Homo sapiens: one gene and its partners. The protein of the gene in region 2 interacts with the protein of the main gene of each other region in a biochemical or structural test. Each region holds a gene or a part of one and is shown on either strand. Other genes may lie near its edges. The genes, in order: PTPRB, INSR and CCDC88A.

The links.
Region 1: of the proteins of INSR (region 2) and PTPRB, one has a biochemical effect on the other in vitro, tested with the Homo sapiens proteins (one large-scale study listed by IntAct).
Region 3: the proteins of INSR (region 2) and CCDC88A form a complex in vitro, tested with the Homo sapiens proteins (one study listed by BioGRID).

What each region holds. Positions count from the first base shown.
Region 1 is NC_000012.12:70,515,340-70,518,994, forward strand, and holds the end of PTPRB (receptor-type tyrosine-protein phosphatase beta), read right to left. Parts: 3' UTR 531-3,655; downstream 1-530. UniProt on the Homo sapiens protein: Plays an important role in blood vessel remodeling and angiogenesis. Not necessary for the initial formation of blood vessels, but is essential for their maintenance and remodeling. Can induce dephosphorylation of TEK/TIE2, CDH5/VE-cadherin and KDR/VEGFR-2.
Region 2 is NC_000019.10:7,168,760-7,172,414, forward strand, and holds part of INSR (insulin receptor isoform Long preproprotein), read right to left. Parts: coding exon 3,531-3,655; intron 1,993-3,530; coding exon 1,778-1,992; intron 1-1,777. UniProt on the Homo sapiens protein: Receptor tyrosine kinase which mediates the pleiotropic actions of insulin.
Region 3 is NC_000002.12:55,413,206-55,416,860, reverse strand, and holds part of CCDC88A (girdin), read left to right. Parts: intron 1-3,655. UniProt on the Homo sapiens protein: Bifunctional modulator of guanine nucleotide-binding proteins (G proteins). Acts as a non-receptor guanine nucleotide exchange factor which binds to and activates guanine nucleotide-binding protein G(i) alpha subunits.

The DNA of each region.
Region 1 (3,655 bases), on a different chromosome or scaffold from region 2:
TACTGTACATTTTTTAAAAAAATAAAGGTTTCTGTGAACAAGTTATAGAAAAATGAAATATTGGAGTTGTGAAGGACAGTGATCTTTCCACTAAAATATGAAAAAGGCAAAAGGGCAAACTCATAACTCTGGAAATAGTCATGGCGTCTCTTTACCAAATGCCACACTGTCCGCAAATGTGTGAAGTGTCTCTGAAGGGCTCAGTGGAAATCTAGCCAGGGCAGTACCTCTGAGAGTACACCAACACTGTTGGTAACAGATGACATTTTGGTTATTAATGAAGTAAAGAACTGAAAACAGGAATTTAGTTGGAGACGGTCAGCTGGAGAGTCTATTATTATGTACACAATACTGTAGGTAACCAACTCAGTACTTACAGGACTAAAGGTTAAGACAACTATATTCTTCATGATAATGTCCTGGAAGATTTTTCTCATTTTAAAGCAGTCACTTTTGGCCTTTCTCCTGAACAGACAGATGACAAAAATTGATAAATGAGGAGCAGGTGAATAGAAGACAGAGCACTCTCCTTCAACAAACTGCAGTTTTATTCCTGTACTAGTGAGAATGTATGCAAGATGCTATATAGATTTTTTTTTTACCACAGTTACAAATATAAAAATGTATTAAGCAAATACATAATTTAAATTGAAAGACTAAGGAAGTTCTTTGTTCAAATACAGTTAGTTAGAAATATTGTGGGTAGATGCTATAATATGAAAAAATAGAATCATCTGCCATCTTAACTGGATTTTCAGAGAAATAATAAATGATATTAAAAACATAAAAGTGCTCTATTATAGAACATAAAAAGTTCAGTTGCTGTATTTACTTACATTATTTATGCTTCACACAAATGAAGGAATGGCTAGATTAACCTGCACGGACAACAGTATTATTGGACACTGACTACCTAACATCCAAAATATCAGGCCAGGAGCAATTTCAAGAAGTGTGTGTAGAATGTCTATGAGCTGTGCACTAATTTCCACAAGGTAGGAGTCGAGACGAGATTAAAGACTTGGTCCTTGTTCTTGAGGAATTTATAAGCCCAATAGTCCTGCATAGAAAACCAGAAATACTCTTCCAGTAGAGCACTGGTGCACCCTCTTGTCAGTGTGGCAGACTAGGACATTCCACAAAGGCTGGTACAGGCTTTCCTACTAACCTGCAGATGGAATGCTGTCCAACTCTGCCACAAACTCTTAAAGCCACAATTTCATGTGTTCCTTTCTTGATGGAGGTGCTTATCTACGCACACAGCTATTAGAACATCTCAGCATAACTGAACGTTTGTTCTTGGGGTGAGGATATTATTTATTAAAATAGCTATAACCAATTCTTTTTGTGACTGTTCTAGAAGGGACACATTGCATTTGTCTGACATTATTCACAGTTTTGAATAACTTATTTTGGTGTCTTATATAAGATCATGTGAATTGGCATAGAGGTTATAAAAATAATCTTTGGTAAACCTGTTAATCTCTTATTTCCATTACATAAGCCTCTATTTTCAGAGCATTCACCAACAATTTCTTTATTTAATAAGTGTATCTTATATAGACAATCTTTTAAAAAATAAAATGCCTTATTTGTGTTGCATACATTTATTCCGAGGGAGCCTCCCTACAAGTCAAGAGTATTCTCTTAGCCAGAAATACTTCTATTGCTAGAAACATTTTTAGAACAGAACAGATTTTTCCTGTTATCATGGCTGCATCAAATGTTACCCTGCATTTTAACTAAAATGGCCAAACATTTTCAAAGTCATCATGCACTACAAGAATCTAAGGCAGTGTGTCTAAAATGCCAAACCCAGTACATTTAGTTAAATATCTGGTCAATTCAAAAAGCAAAATAAATTGATTCAATTGTTTAATCAGTTAAACCATCTGGCCAACATAGAGTGAATCCTCAAAAGGGCAACATGTCCTAATAGAAACGTGTGACAGGATTGTCCAAGCACACCCAGGCCACACAGAAGAGATGCCATTTTATCTTCATGATGATGTCTGGTTAGATTCTGTTTTGCAAATATTTTCTCTTTGCATCATTTCACTTGCTTTTTGCAGTCATCGTTTACAGATTTTCCTTTGATAGGGAACATTCTTTGAATACCTGATGTAATTCTAAATTTCAGGTTAAAAATAGCAGGGCAGAAAATTAGCACGGCATTTTCTCCTTCAACTCTTCAGGAATGAGGTAGGCTTGAGGGCTTGCTCACTGCAACTTGGAGGAGGATCAGTTATTCCTTATTGCCACTCTGTCTTGGCTAATCAGTTATATTTTCATTTCCTCAGTGAAATGGAACCCAGAAAGCCCTTGAACTGCTATCATATACAAGCAGTTTATTACCTATTGATTTTCACCAGGTCAGGTTTGGTCTGGCTCATGTTTGTAAACTAAAACTCTAGAGCGTCTCAGAGTTTGGGCTCAGATACTACCACTGCTGTTGTGCAGATCTGGTAGCTTTATGATTTCAGGATTCCAACCTCAAAGAATTCTTAGAAAGCTAAGTGAATGAGAATTTAGTATATGGCCAATAATATTATTGCAAAAGGTAAGGAAAATGTTTAACATAAGAAACTGGATCCTTAAACAGCAAGGCAAGAGAATCAGCATGTGAAGGGTAGCATGTGAGGTCTATTTTTATATTGCTGGACATCTGGTAAATGGTTTAATATTATTTTCACATGTCATTTTGGGCTTTCTTCCGAGAGGTGATTACAAAATTTATCAAAGACCCTCCCAAAGAAAACTGCCCCGAAAATGTCTGTGTGCTGTGTGCCTTTTAGTATTTAAAAGTGAATTGGCCAGGTGCGGTGGCTCACTCTTGTAATCCTAGCACTTTGGGAGGTTGAGGTGGGTGGATCACCTAAGGTCACGAGTTCAAGACCAGCCTGGCCAACATGGTGAAACCCCATCTCTACTAAAAACACAAAAATTAGCCAGACATGGTGGCAGGCACCTGTAATTCCAGCTACTTGGGAGGCTAAGGCAGAATCGCTTGAACCTGGGAGGCGGAGGTTGTAGTGAGCTGAGATTGTGCCACTGCACTCCAGCCTGGGCAACAGAGCAAGACTTCATTTCAAAAAAAAGTGAAATTATGGTCATCTCTTTGATGATGTGGAACCTGAAAGGACTATGAAATTATACTCATGGGTATAAAAGATAATATGAACAGTAGATAAAAATCACATTCAACTGGGAAAACAAACATATTCAAGTAGGAGGAGTGGGGCAAGTAATAAAACAGAGGGACTCAGAGGTTTAAGGGATAGAGAATTACTTAGGACAAATATGTGCAAGCCCAGGTAAGAGAGGTGAGTCTTTGAAAATTCTGATTCAAGAGCTGAACAATTGGCTGCTTTCCAGAGAACAACAGAATGACAATACAAAATTGATTTAATGAGATGAGGTTAAAGGAGTTAATTATAACGAACTTGGAAAAATAATTATTAAGATGCTAGATGGGACTCTCCCAAGATTTGATAGCTCAAAAGCACTTTGAAGTCTTGATGATTAAAGTGTACTGCACAGGTACACAGACAGGATGCCCACCAAGACAGGAAATGGAGTGTTTACCAAGACATAACACATGATGCAATTAAATGGAAATAAATCCAATAGAGCTGAATGTCAAGGAAAACTTTTT
Region 2 (3,655 bases):
CTAGTTTTTGTATTTTTTTTTTTTAGTAGAGATGGAGTTTCACCACATTGGCCAGGCTGGTCTCGAACTCCTGACCTCAAGTGATCTGCCTGCCTCGGCCTCCCAGAGTGCTGGGATTCCAGGCGTGAGCCACCATGCCCAGCCCTTGCACTACATTTTGACATAAGTAACTAACTCCCCATGAAGGTATCCCAGAAGCCCTTGGCAGCTCACTGTTTAGAATCTGTCAGGGAAGTGCAGTCAGCAGGCAGCCTGCAGCTGCAGAAACTGCAGGACCTGCTGTAGCATTCCAGCCAAAACCTGACTCTCCCTGGACAGCCCCCACCTATGACTGAGCTTGGTAGATGCCTGGCCGTCCCTTTGCAATGCAGAACTTCCCTGCAGACAACCGTGGCCTTGATCTCTTTCTGGGTTTGGCCAAGACTCAGGGATGCATCACCATCTGAGACTCTCCCAGCCCTATCCTCCCTCCTTCCCGCTCTCTGTTCACAGAGGTCAGACACACGCTATTGTCAAAAGGCTCTTCATGGCTGAGCGTGGTGACTCACACCTGTAATCTCAGCACTTTGGGAGGCCGAGGCGGGAGGATCACCTGAGGTCAGGAGTTCAAGACCACCCTGGCCAACATGGCAAAACCCTGTCTCTACTAAAAATACAAAAAAAAAAATTAGCCGGGCTTGGTGGCATGTGCCTGTAATCCCAGCTATTCTGGAGGCTGAGGCGAGATAATTACCTGAACCCAGGGGAAGGAGGTTGCAGTGAGGCAAGATCACGCCACTGCACTCCAGCCCTGGGTGACAGAGCAAGACTCTGTCCCAAAAAAAAAAAAAAAAAAAAAAGAAGCTCTTCCTCTGTTTCATATTTTATGAATATTACCCTCAATACATTTTCTGCACTCCTAACTTCAACTTGGCAGTCACTTCCCAGGAGATGCAGACTGACATAGGTATTTTACTCAACTTTGAAGTCTTCAGCATCAGCCTGATACACATATAAGAAGGTGTCATCCATTCATCCATCATTCATTCATCCATTCATTCAGTGCTTGTATGACTTCATCCCGTATCCGGTACTATATGGCACAGTAAGCATAGTGATAATATTAATAAATGTGCAGAATCTGCCCTCAGTAAGAAAGCCTATCACACAGTGAGTTGTTAGAGGGAAGTAATACCCCCTGGGGGTGACTGTGATGGATGAGAGAGGACAGCCACATTATCTGGTTTGTGGACCACTTACAGCAGGGGTCCCCAGCCCCTGGGCCACAGACCAGTACTTATCCATGGCCTGTTACGAACAGGGCTGTACAGCAGGAGGTGAGTGATAGGTGAGCAAGTGAAGCTTCATCTGTATTTACAGTCACTCCCCATCGCTTGCATGACCACCTGAGTTCTGCCTCCTGTCAGATTAGCGGCGGCATTAGATTCTCACAGGGGTGTGAACCCTATTGTGAACTGTGTACATGAGGTACCTAGACTGCACACTCCTTATGAAAATCTAATGCCTGATGATCTGTCACTGTCTCCCATCACCCCCAGCTGGGACCATCTAGTTGCAGGAACACAAGCTCAGGGTTCCCATTGATTCTACATGATGGTGAGTTGTACAATTCTTTCATTATATATTACAATGTAATCATAATAGGAATAAAGTGCATAGTAAATGTAATGCACTTGAATCATGCTGAAACCATCCCCACCCACCACCAGTCCATGGAAAAACCATCTTCCACTACACCGGTCCCTCATGCCAAAAAGGTTGGGGACCAGTGACTTACAGGATGCCTGGTCCCCATTGGTCTTCAGGGCAATGTCGTTTCTCTCCTGGCGCCCCTTGGTTCCTGAAACTTCTTCCATCTTGTGGATTTCTGACAAGCAGAGTTTGGGGTTATAGTGGAAGAAGAGTTTCCCCTGAGTGATGGTGAGGTTGTGTTTGCTCCAGTCCCAGAGCTGCCTTAGGTTCTGGTTGTCCAAGGCATAGAAGGAGTAGTTCCTATGGAAAAAACACACACATCTAGTCATTCAACGGCTGGTCTTCTACAACTCCAAGATGGTGTGGCCATGCTCGGAGTTGATCTTGTTCAGTGCTACGTGCCTAATCCTCTCCACTTGCTTGGCACATACTCAACACATATTTGTTGAATGTGGATAACAGAGGAAGTTGAGGAAGTTTTCATGGCCAGGAAGGAGGCTCAGCTCAGTCTTGAAGAGGGGTGGTGAGTCTGTGATGGACTGAGGAATAGGTTTTGCAGAAACCAATTTCTGCAAATAGGGGAAATACTGATAACACAGAGGCACCTAAGCTGAGTTCAGGGAAGAGCAAAGTAGCCTGTTTTGGCCAATAGGTGACAGGAAATAGCTGTAGTTGCAATGGACCAGACCCTCTAGTATATTGCATGCCAGACCAAGACCAAGAACATGTGGCCATCCTTAATAAGGAGAAAGGAGCCATTGAAGGTTTTTGTTTGTTTGTTTGTTTGTTTTATTGAGATGGATTCTCACTCTGGTGCCTAGGCTGGAGTACAGATAATATAGTCTAAACTATATTGTTTAGACCACCTTCTCAAGTCACTTACCAGCTCATGTTGATTAACATGTCCTTTTGTCCCTTTCCCCATTTGCTGTCTGTTCTACAGATGTGAGGCTGGGGCTGAGGCAGCCATCTTGTGACCATGAGGAGCACAAAGATGGAAAGAATCTGGGTCTTCCACAGACCTCCTGCCTATGAGTCAATCTTGATCTAGCTAGTTTGAGTTTCTGCTGTTTTGCTAATAGAGTTTCTAGGACCTCAAGGAGAAGGTTGGAATATACTGGAATATACTGAGATGGAGTCCATCCCAGAAATTAGGATGGACAACCGGGACTAAGAGGGAATGTTCATTTTATGCATGCCAAACTCTACTCACAATGCAGCCCAAACAGCAAATTTAGCAAAAATTCCAGCCTGTACCCTTGGAGGATGGGCACCAAGGTTGGGCTGCTCCCACTTTTGTTTCTCAAGAATGACTATAAAAAAGCTTTTACAATTTTTGGCTGGATGGACCTTTAGGCACATTCCAAGTTCTTTTTTCCCGAGGTTTTGCCAGATATACTTTTATTTGTTTTTTATTTGTTTTTATTTGATTTTTAAAAAATCCTTAAGTTTTTCCTTTTCTTTTCTTTTTTTTTTTTTGGACAGAGTCTCACTCTGTCACCCAGGCTGGAGTGCAGTAGTGTGATCTTGGCTCACTGCAACCTCTGCCTCCCAGGTTCAAGCTATTCTCCTGCCTCAGCCTCCCAAGTAGCTGGGATTACAGGCATGCACTATCACACTTGGCTAATTTTTGTACTTTTAGTAGAGACAGGGTTTCACCATGTTGGCCAGGCTGGTCTTGAACTCCCCGCCTCAAGTGATTCACCCACGTTGGCCTCCTAAAATGCTGGGATTACAGGCATCAGCCACCACACCTGGCCAAAAAAATCCTTAAGTTGTTCTAATACACGAACTTCCTAGTTAGCACTCAGGCCATACACACAATCAGGCCCACGTACCCAATTTCCAAGGTCTCTCCTCGAATCAGACGTAACTTCCGGAAGAAGGAAAGTGACACCAGAGCGTAGGATCGGCGGATTTTTAGATACCCTGAAATTTCTTCAATGAGGCCGAGGTTGGCTTC
Region 3 (3,655 bases), on a different chromosome or scaffold from region 2:
TATCTTAATAAATTATTTAACTGATAGGGCAACAAAATATACATTGTTTTATAAGCTGTATTTTGCTAATTTTGAAGTCATTAGGATTTCTGTTAAGCACTTTACTTAGATTAATGTATGCTTTAATGTACTCTATTATAAAGTGTCAGTTGTAACTCTATACCTAGTAAATGTAAAAGTTAGGCCTAGTCTAATTTCTACAGTACATTTAGTTACAGAATTTGTGAGCAAGAACCCTTTGTAAATGAAACTATTTATATATTTTCCATGTTTCTTGTGCTTGGAATTCAATGAGTGTCTTGGATCTGTGGGTTTATAGTTTTTATCAAATTTAGAAAAGTTTCAGTCATTATTCCTAGAAGAAAATATATACATATATATATATATATATATATATATATATATATATATATATATTTATTTATTTATTTATTTGACCTCTTCACCCTTTTGGAAGTCCAGTTACATATATATTAGTAGCTTTGATGTTGTCTTAAAACTTACTGATGTTTAATTCAATTTTCTTTCAGTCTTCTTTGTTTCATTTTGGATAGTCTGTTGTGATGTCTCCAAATTTATTAATTTTTTCTTCTATAATGTTTAGTCTGCTCTTAATCCCACCCACCATATTTTTCATTCCAGATATTATAACTTCATCTTTAGAAATTGTCTTATATCTTCCATGTCTATGTTTTTCATGCTCTGTCTTTTCTCTAGCTTCTTGAACATATGGAATACAGTTATAATTGGCTTAATGTCTATGTCTGCTAATTCTGTCTGTGTCATTTTGGGGTTGGTTTCGGTTGATTGATATTTCTTCCCATTATGGATTCTGTTGCTTTTGCATGCCTGGTGATTTTTTTTTTAATTTGATGCCAGTCATTTGAAATTTTAGCTTGTTTGGCGCTGGATATTTTTGTATTCCATTAAATACAAAAATCTTGAGCTTCGTTCTGGGATGCATTAAGTTACCTGAAAACAGTTTGATCTTTTGGGGACATGCTTTTAAGATTTGTTAGGCAGTACTACTTTGTCACACTGTTGAGGCAAAACCCCTCTGAATACTCCAGCTGGTGGAAACAGGACCTACTTGGTGGTGTTCGCTCTCAGTCTTTTTGGTGGTTCTTTCACTATCTTTGGGTAGTTTCCTCACACTTATATTCTGATAAGTACTCAGACTTGAGGGATACCCTCTGCAGATCTTTCTCACTGTTCAACTCTGTTAAGTACTCTGCCCTGTGTACTTTAGCTACCTTGCTGTCTCCAGACTCAGTTCTGTCCCCTCAGCTCAGACCATTGTGCTCTGCCTGGATTCCCCTCTTCCTGTTCTGTGGCCTGGAAACTCTTTCAAGGCCATAATGCTGGAGCAGTTGTTGGATTCATGCTTGTTTCCCATCGATTGGGGATCACTGTCTTTTGTTGCCTGATGTCCAATGTCTTGAAAAACGTTTTATGTATTTTGTCTTTTTTTCCCCCCAGTTGTTTCAGGGAGGAGGGCAAATTTGGTCTCTGGCCACCAGTAGAAATATGTTTGTATACTTTTTTGTTTTTCAAGATGGGGTCTGGCTATGTTGCTCAGGCTGGAATATGTGATCATAGTGCATTATGGCCTCAAACTCCTGGGGTCAGGCCATCCTCCCACCCTAAACATCTGAGTAGTTGGGACTACAGGCACGCGCACCACAATGCCTGGCTGTTTATATACTTTTAATTACATTTTTGCTCTGCTAGTCTTATATTACTGCTTTTAGATGTGAGATGGACTTTTTTTATAGGAACCTTTTTTTTTTTTTTTGAAACAGAGTCTCGCTCCATGCCCAGGCGGGAGTGCAGTGGTGTGATCTCAACTCACTGCAAGCTCTACCTCCCGGGTTCACGCCATTCTCCTGCCTCAGGCTCCCGAGTAACTGGGGCTACAGGCACCCACCACCACGCCTGGCTAATTTTTTGTATTTTTTTAGTAGAGACGGGGTTTCACCGTGTTAGCCAGGATGGTCTCGATCTCCTGACCTCGTGATCCGCCTGCCTCAGCCTCCCAAAGTGCTGGGATTACAGGCATTAGCCACCACACCTGGCCAGGAACCTTATTATATAAGTTTTTTCATCTAAAATGTTTATTAAGACTAAGAAAATTGATTAATTTAATGACTCTGTTGTTGCTGTTTTGCACCCAGACTCTGAAAGTGAAGAGCTAACTTCTTCATGACACTGTTTACTGACTCTGCCTCACAATTTTGAAGTCTTTTCACTGACTTGAGATTTACTGTATTCAGAGATGAATCCTGAATTTCATTGAGTAGCTTTTTGAAGCAAATAATCTCTGTTAGAACTTGTAACATGACTTCAATCGTCTTAAACTAATGGGAAGGAAGAGGAAAGCTATTCAGAGATCTGGAATGATGGGCCAGCTCTTCTGTACGCTGTAGGGCATTTTCCTACTTCAGTGGATTGAAATCTTTTTTCTTTATTGTTATCAGTTGTAGGGCTTGGTGACAGTGAAGTAGAAATAATTATTTTCCTGTTTGAGATGTCATTTAATTCTGGAGCCAGTTTTGAATATTACTTGCTGTGAGTTTTTAAGGAATTTGTGACATTGTAGTTAATTTCATACTCCTAAAATTTTAAAAACGTCCAATTCATATTACCCAAACGGTTGAAAATATGGATGTCTTAGGATTTTAAGTACTGAGAAAATTGTTAATAGTATCAGAACAATATTTGGAATTATTATTTATGATTCAACCCTATTAGATAGTTATAGAGAGCTGTACTTGGAACACTTGGTAATTGTGATAAACTTGTTATGGCTTTTCCTTTAGAATTTTGGGTTTGAAGGGACTTCAGAAGTCATCTGCCCTTTTTTGTTTGTTTGTTTGCTTGTTTTTTTTTTTTGTTTTTGTTTTTGTTTTTTGAGACGGTCTTGTTCTGTTGCCCGGGCTGGAGTGCAGGGGCATGATCACCGCTCACTGCAGCCTTCACCTCCCGGGCTCAAGCTATCCTCCCACCTTAGCCTCCCAAGTACCTAGGACCACAGGCACGCGCTACCATGCTTGACTAATTTTTGTATTTTTTGTAGAGATGGAGTTTCACTGTGTTGCCCAGGCTGGTCTCAAGCGATCCACCCACCTCAGCCTCCCAAAGTTCTGGGATTATAGGCACAAACCAGCCTGACTCTTTGCTTGACTCTATTGACTAGGCTGTGAGTTTCCTGAAGCCAGGGACTCTATCTTTTGTCTCTGTATTCTTAGGACAGTGTTTGACACACAGTACATTCTTGATATATTTCTGTTGAATGATTGAATAATACAGCCATGTGTAGTAAAGTGGAATGAATTTGAGCCTTATGTCAGATAGACATAGACTTGGGTTCAGTTCTAGCTGTGCTACTTATTGGTATGTGAGCCTAATATCTCCAAATTACAGTTCCTACATTTATAAGATGGGAGATAATGTTTCCCTTCCTGATGGGGAAGGATTATCTACTAAGGCAGGGACAGATAAGTCTATTTTCTGTTTTGTTGACCCACTATATCCCCAGTGCTGGTTGCTGTCATTATTATTATCCTGTGCTATGCTATATCTACCTACTTATGGCTCCTCAAGTAAATCATGATAGTTCACAGCTTAGTTTTTTTGTTTGTTTGTTTGTTTTTGA